Linked DNA regions of Homo sapiens. Changing the gene in region 1 together with any one later gene gives a genetic interaction. Each region holds a gene or a part of one and is shown in the gene's direction. Other genes may lie near its edges. The genes, in order: ALG12 and GBF1.

The links.
Region 2: changes in ALG12 (region 1) and GBF1 together harm fitness more than expected from each alone (negative genetic interaction), as found in Homo sapiens cells (one study listed by BioGRID).

The regions. Positions count from the first base shown.
Region 1 is NC_000022.11:49,904,813-49,908,618, reverse strand, and holds part of ALG12 (dol-P-Man:Man(7)GlcNAc(2)-PP-Dol alpha-1,6-mannosyltransferase), read left to right. Parts: intron 1-674; coding exon 675-898; intron 899-3,806. UniProt on the Homo sapiens protein: Mannosyltransferase that operates in the biosynthetic pathway of dolichol-linked oligosaccharides, the glycan precursors employed in protein asparagine (N)-glycosylation.
Region 2 is NC_000010.11:102,363,949-102,367,754, forward strand, and holds part of GBF1 (Golgi-specific brefeldin A-resistance guanine nucleotide exchange factor 1), read left to right. Parts: intron 1-1,448; coding exon 1,449-1,651; intron 1,652-2,434; coding exon 2,435-2,558; intron 2,559-3,136; coding exon 3,137-3,262; intron 3,263-3,529; coding exon 3,530-3,612; intron 3,613-3,806. UniProt on the Homo sapiens protein: Guanine-nucleotide exchange factor (GEF) for members of the Arf family of small GTPases involved in trafficking in the early secretory pathway; its GEF activity initiates the coating of nascent vesicles via the localized generation of activated ARFs through replacement of GDP with GTP.

The DNA.
Region 1 (3,806 bases):
ACGCATAGATGGAACAGCATAACGAATCCCAACATGTGTGTCACCCGTGACCGTCTGTTTTTTGTTTTTTGGTTTTTTTTTTTTTTTTTTTTGAGACAGAGTCTCACTCTGTCGCCAGGTTGGAGTACAGTGGCATGATCTCGGCTCACTGCAACCTCCAACTCCCTGGTTCAAGTGATTCTCCTGCCTCAGCCTCCTGAGTAGCTGGGATTACAGGCACATGCCACCATGCCCAGCTAATTTTTGTATTTGTAGTAGAGACAGGGTTTCACCATGTTGGCCAGGATGGTCTCGATCTCTTTACCTCGTGATCTACCCACCTTGGCCTCCCGAAGTGCTGGGATTACAGACATGAGCCACTGCGCCCGGCCGACCATCTGTTTTTAACAGTGAAGAAAAGGGTACAGAGACCGAACGTCCTGTGGCCCTTGCTGCCTTGGTCCTGCCTGGAGGGGGCCCGACGCCCAAGTGGTATGTGTGCACCCGAGCTGTGGCCTGGGCTCTGTCTTTTAGGAGGGGCCTGAGGCCTGAGTGGTGTCTGTGCACACGAGCCGTGGTCCAGGCTGCATCTCTCAGCACAACTGTCTTCAAGCGTCTTCTCCACCTTGACCCTGCCACCTAGCCCACGGGCTCATGCGTGGACAGGTGCGTGGCCTCCTTAACCCAGCCCGCAGACCTCCCCGCTGCTGTGGTACTTCTACTCAGCCCTGCCCCGCGGCCTGGGCTGCAGCCTGCTCTTCATCCCCCTGGGCTTGGTAGACAGAAGGACGCACGCGCCGACGGTGCTGGCACTGGGCTTCATGGCACTCTACTCCCTCCTGCCACACAAGGAGCTACGCTTCATCATCTATGCCTTCCCCATGCTCAACATCACGGCTGCCAGAGGCTGCTCCTACCTGTGAGTGCTCTTTTTGTGACATGCATTTTTATAGTTTCATTGGAAACAGGTTCACTGATTTACTGTTGGGGGGATGTATGTGTGTGTTTAATTTTTGAAACAGGGTCTTGCTCTGTCGCCCAGCTGGAGTGGGGCTTACTGCACCCCTCAACTCCTAGGGGGTTAAGCCATCCTCCTGCCTCCTCCTCTGGAAGTGCTGGGATTGCAGGTGTGAGCCACCAGGGCTGTTTTTTAAGATAAACACAGGGTGTGTTGAACTAGGCGCTTATGTCAAAGGAGGGTGACCCCAGTCCTCTCTCCTCCCTGAGGGCTGCATGGGATGGGACCGGCCTGGCATTGTGCTGACAGAGGGCTTTGCTCAGGTGGTCTCTGTCTTGGGTTAATTTGGTGACTGGTCCACATATGGTGATGCACCAGCGGTCCCAGTCTCTGTCATGGGAGAGTGACACTCACATAGGTAGCAGCGGCAGAGGGCAGGGGCAGCCAGGCCTGGGAGGCTCTGAGGGCGACAGGTCAGGTAGAGGAAGGGCGTTCGTGGCCATCCTGACAGGGCCTCGGGCTTGAGGGCGTTTGTCAAGGCGGGTCATCTGGCTGGAAGAGGGGGATGGTGAGGGAGGTGCCTATGGCTGGGTGCAGAGGGCCCAGCGTGGCCCAGGCTCAAGGTCCTGTGGAGGGCAGGGGGCTTCCTGCGGGGAGGGACTGCAGGCAGCAGGTGATGGAGGTGGAGCTGGGGGCCTGGCAGGGCCTGGGGAGGGCACTGCCTGGGCTGAGGGTGGGGTGGTCTGAGCGCGGCTGCCACTCAGTGTTGCAAGCCTCAGGGAGCCAGGAGAGTCCATCACTGCCGGGCCCTGTGGGTGCTGGGGAAGGACCCGGGGCTCAGGCCCAGGAGAGTCCATCACTGCTGGCCCTGTGGGTGCTGCGGAAGAACCCAGGGCTGAGGCTGGCCAGCTCTGTGCCCGTTCAGAGTTTGCTGCCTTGATGGGAACAGGAGGCCAACTCAGGCCACGCTGGGCATTGAGGGGCGGCAGGGCTACAGGCCAGGAGGGCCGCGGCCTGGGGCATTGAGAGGTGCCCACTCTGGCTGGAGAGGAAGCCCCACAATGCGGTCCCTGATCTCAGGCAGCGGTCAGGTGCTTTCCGGTGCCACTTGTTACAGGGGAGGGGATGGTGCCCCCCAGCTCCGACTGCCCCGCACTGCCCTCGGGCCTGGGAGCTCCTCTGGCTGCCGTGACTGTTCCTCGCTGGGGGTTCCTCCGGCTGCCGTGGCCGTGCCTGGGTTGGGGGCTCCTCTGGCTGCTGTAGCCGCGCCTCAGTGGGGGCTCCTGGGAGCTCTGCCTCTGCTTTTCTGTGCCTTTGGCTCCCTCTCGTCTCAGGGGTCGGCTCAGGGCTGGAGGAGGAGCAGACCCCAGCCAGAGTCATGGAAAAGAGGGTAGGAAAGACGGGGAGAGCGGCGCGGATGGATTGTATTCGGTGACAGGCTTTTCCAGCAGGGAAGAAGATCCAGTGGGAACTGGACCCAGCTCTGTGTCTTTGAGGCCTGGTGTGCTGGGCGTGAGGGGCTGCTCCATGCAAGGGCCCCTGCTGTGCCAGTCGGCCTTATCCGGAGGAGGACAAACTTGGGGAGTCCAAATGAGGGGGTGCAGGGTAGAGCAAGGCCCCCTCCGAAGTCAGGTCCTCAGCCCGGCCACCCTGGGAGCAAGAGCAGGCCGTTTCCCACGGTGTCAGGGCCCAGGGCCTTGAGACAGTCCTGGGGGTGGAAGGTTTCTGATTGCGAGCTTTCCACAGTGACTGCCCACTCCAGGTTTGGGCGGGAACAAAGGACGAACGCCCTGGCAGTGCTGAGCTCTTTGGGGCAGGCACTTAGGAGGCTGCGGTCATCCTAGGTGGGGCCTCGAGCTCAGAAACCGCACCAGAGATTGTTCAAGGGTGCACTAGTCTGCTCTCGCACTGATGTAAAGAAACACCTGAGACTGGATAATTTATAAAGAGGAGGCTTCATTGGCTCGCGGTTCCGCAGGCTGTACGGGAAGCGTGGTACTGGTGTCTGCTCAGCTTCCAGGCTGGCCTGGGAAAACTTTCCATTATGGCGGAAGGCGAGAGGGAAGCGGGCACGCTTTTATGTGGCCAAAGCAGGACGAAGAGGGACGGGGGAGGTGTCACCCATTTTCAAACAAGCAGACCTCTCGAGAACTCACTCGGTATGAGGAGAACAGCATGGAGGGGATGGCGCTAATCCATTCCTGAGGGCTCCACCTCCATGACCCAGTCACCTCCCACCAGGCCCCACCTCCAGCATTGGGGATCACAGTTGGACATGAGATTTGGTGGGGACGCAGATCCAAACCATAGCAAAGGGCAGGGCCTGTGGAGAAGAGGGCTCCGAGGAGCCTGGTGGGTTTGGAAGAGAGTGAGTCTTGATCGGGGGTTCAGGGCGTTTAGACCAGGGTTGGCAAGCTTTTCCGTTAAGGACCAGCTAATAAAGAGCCTCATCTTCGTGGGCCACACTGTCTGTGGCAGCTGCTAACTCTGCCGTAGGATCCTGAGATTGGCATAGTCGATTGTGAGAGAACCGGCGGCACCCTGTCCCAGAGAGTTCACTCAGACCTGCTGGGAGTGGGCTTGGCCGCGCGGGTGGCACTCTGACCTACACAGTCACTTGGGATTGTTTGAAAATATATTTTTAGGCTGGGCGCAGTGGCTCATGCCTGTAATCTCAGCACTTTGGGAGGCTGAGGCGGGCAGATCACGAGGTCAGGAGTTCAAGACTAGCCTGGCCAACATAGTGAAAGCCTGTCTCTACTAAAAATACAGAAATTAGATGGGCATGGTGGCGTGCACCTGTAGTCCCAGCTACTTGGGAGGCTGAGGCAGGAGAATCACTTGAACCCAGGAGGCGGAGGTTGCAGTG
Region 2 (3,806 bases), on another chromosome or scaffold:
CCATTTGAAGCCCTTCCCTTACTCCTAAGCTATGTAGTTGAGCATACCCTATGTATGCCCCTGCGCAAATGCTGTACCAGTTGAGAGCCAAGTGTCACTAGTGGCAGTGACAGGAGCCTTGGGAGTTGGTGTCTTGTGGGTCATTGAAGGTTACTGTCATCTCCAGCTCTTGCAAGATGATTGGCAATAAAGGGAAATTGATATTCATTCTGGTGCTTTAGTAAGGTTCAAATAGTAAGGTTCAAATAACTGTTTGTACTTTGGATTTCTTTTTTTTTTTTTTTTTTTTTTTTTCAGACGGAGTCTCTCTCTGTTGCCTAGGCTGGAGTGCAGTGGCATGATCTCAGCTCACTGCAACCTCCACCTACCGGGTTCAAGCAATTCTTCTGCCTCAGGCTCCCAAGTAGCTGGGACTACAGGCGTGTGCCACCATGCCTGGCTAATTTTTTGTATTTTTAGTAGAGACGGGGTTTCACCGTGTTAGCCAGGGTGGTCTTGATCTCCTGACCTCGTGATCTGCCCACCTTGGCCTCCCAAAGTGCTGGGATTACAGTCGTGAGCCACCATGTCTGGCCTGTACTTTGGGTTTCTTAACACAAAGAAAACCTAACCCTTTCTGGCCGGGCGCAGTGGCTCACGCCTGTAATCCCAGCACTTTGGGAGATCGAGGTGGGCAGATCACCTGAGGTCAGGAGTTTGAGACCAGCCTGGCTAACACGATGAAACCCCGTCTCTACTAAAAATACAAAAATTAGCTGGGCATGGTGGTGCATGCCTGTAATCCCAGCTACTCGGGAGACTGAGGCAGGAGAATCAGTTGAACCTGGGAGGCAGAGGTTGCAGTGAGCTGAGATCACGCCACTGCACTCCAGCCTGGGCAACAGAGTGAAACTCCATCTCGGAAAAAGAAAAAAAAAACCTAACCCTTTCTTTCTCTTATTGCCAGCTTAAATGACTTTGGTTCATGTGTGCCCTTGAGTACCTGGCCGTGACTGGACATACAGAAATATGAGTTGCCTCCACAGTTAGTCCACTTTGTCTTTCAAACCCAGGGCATTAAGCTAGGCAACCAAAGAAGCTAAGCTAGGCTAAAAACAAGAGGCTGGCTATCAACAAATGTCAGGGATGGATATAAAACTGGAGAGAAGAATTACCTAGTTTCTTTCTTCTACTTTTCCCCCAATCCTAAGTTAGAGAAGAGGAACTGTTTTATGTATCTTGAGCACTCAGGAAAGGAGTAAAAAAGAGCTCGTAAGCCAATTCAATTAGACATGAAGATGGGGGAAGCTAAGGCCATTATGATCTAGCCTTAGTTCTGTAATCACTAAGAACCACATCCTAGGAGCTTTTTAGCTGACCAACTGTGGGTGGGCTATGGTGGACTCCAGGCTGGCCTTGTCTAATTTAGAGGCAAAGTAGCTTCTATACCTCTAGTTTTTCTCATGCAGCTGCTAATCACTGGCACAGAGCAGTTCAATCAGAAACCAAAGAAGGGGATTCAGTTTCTGCAAGAGAAAGGCCTCCTCACCATCCCAATGGACAACACAGAGGTTGCTCAGTGGCTCCGAGAGAACCCTCGGCTGGACAAGAAGATGATTGGAGAGTTTGTGAGTGACCGCAAAAACATTGACCTGTTGGAGAGCTTTGTGAGGTGAGGAAGCTGTAAGAAATGTGGGATATAGCCAGGTATGGTGGCTCATGCCTGTAATCCTGACACTTTGGGAGGCTGAGGCAGGCAGATCACTCGAGCTCAGGAGTTCAAGACCAGCCTGGGCAACATGGTGAAACCCTGTCTCTACAAAAAATACAAAAATTAGCTGGGCATGGTGGCATGTGCCTGTAGTCCCAGCTGTTCAGGAGGCTGAGGCAGGAAGATCACTTGAGTCTGGGAGTTCGAGGCTGCAGTGAGCTGTGATCATGCCACTGTGATAGAGTGAGATAGAGTGAGATAGAGTGAGATCATGCCACTGTGATAGAGCTGTGATAGAGTGAGACCTTGGCTCAAAAAAAAAAAAGGTGGGACATGGTTAGTGATCAGTTTAAAGGGACAGAACATCCCTACCTCAAAGCGGTCTCTATAAATTTCTTCTGGAGACCCTAGCCAATGTTCTTCCTCTACCCATCATTTATATCTATTGGACCTGAAAGGGACTCCAACGAGATAGTTTGGGGAGCCCCCTCCATTCTGCATGGAGTCCATTCCAAAGGGGTAGAGCAGGGTTCCAGGGGGTGAGGGTTCTAGGCAAGAGTCCGTGGATGTGAAAAGTATTAAGGCTAGGGGTTGTGTTAGGGATGAACAGGAGATACTGCCCCTTTACTAGAGACCTCAGCCTCCTCTCTTCCAGTAAGAGTAGGTTAGGAGGACAGTGACTAAAAGAGCCTGACATGTGCAGCTTACACATTTTCAGCCTCTTCTTCCTTTCTTTCCCTATAGCACCTTCAGTTTTCAGGGTCTGCGACTGGACGAAGCCCTCCGCCTCTACCTGGAAGCCTTCCGTTTGCCTGGGGAAGCACCAGTCATCCAGAGGTTGCTGGAGGCATTCACAGAGCGTTGGATGGTGAGTTTGAGTGTCAGGGGCTGAGCCCAGGATCCAAGGTCAGTTTGACTGAGGGCTGAAGAATCCAGCTGCTGTCTCTTTTTTTTTTTTTTTTTTTTGAGACAGAGTCTCGCTCTGTCACCCAGGCTGGAGTGCAGTAGCGCAGTCTCAGCACACTGCAACCTCCACCCCCCGGGTTCAAGCAATTCTCCTGCCTTAGCCTCCTGAGTAGCTGGGATTTCAGGCACCTGCCACCAAGCCTGGCTAATTTTTGTATTTTTAGTAGAGATGGGTTTTGCCATGTTGGTCAGGCTGGTCTCGAACTCCTGATCTCGGGTGATCCGCCCACCTCGGCCTCCCTGAGTGCTGGGATTACAAGCGTGAACCACCGCACCCAGCCTGCTGTCTCTTAAAAAGTCAGAGAGCAAAATTAGTGACCTTTCCACAAAGAGATCAGCTTCTGTTAAGGAGTTGGCAAGAGACTGGCCACTTTCTGGATGGTACCTCTCCTCTGTACTAGCACTGACCAGTGGGTTGGTAGTGAGGGTTTAATTGGCCAGAGAAGGGCATTGACACAGGCGGGATCTTTGCTTTTTCAGAATTGTAATGGCTCCCCATTTGCCAATAGCGATGCCTGCTTTTCCCTGGCCTATGCTGTCATCATGCTTAATACTGACCAGCACAACCACAATGTTCGTAAACAGAATGCACCCATGACCCTGGAGGTAAGCTTGGGTCCCAGTCAAGGCAAAGAAGACCCAGCACAGCTTGGGAGGTAGCAGGAAGGACATAGGATTTCCAGTGGGCATGATGGATGGGGTTCTGTCCAAGGGAATCAGGAAGGGCTGGCCAACCTAGAAAAGGGACTGGGGTGGGGAAGTGGGTTTTTTCGCTTACCTTTTCCTAAGTCCTATTTACTGAAAACCCAGGAGTTCCTTAGGTGGGGCTTCAGTGTTGACACAAGGGGAAAAAACTTACTGGCCTGTCTCTAGGAGTTTCGCAAAAATCTGAAAGGTGTGAATGGAGGCAAGGACTTTGAGCAAGACATCCTGGAGGACATGTACCATGCCATCAAGTGAGTATACATAGAGAATAGTGCAGTATCTCTGTTAAGAAGAAGCACATTGCTTCCTTTCCCAGTTTTTAGAGTCATGTCAGACTGCAGTGACTCACATGCCCTGGATTTAGCCTCAGGACTTAGTTGGGCAGCCCCCTCTCTGCCAACTGTTTCTTCCTTAAAGAAGCCCAAATGATATTGGGACTCTAGTA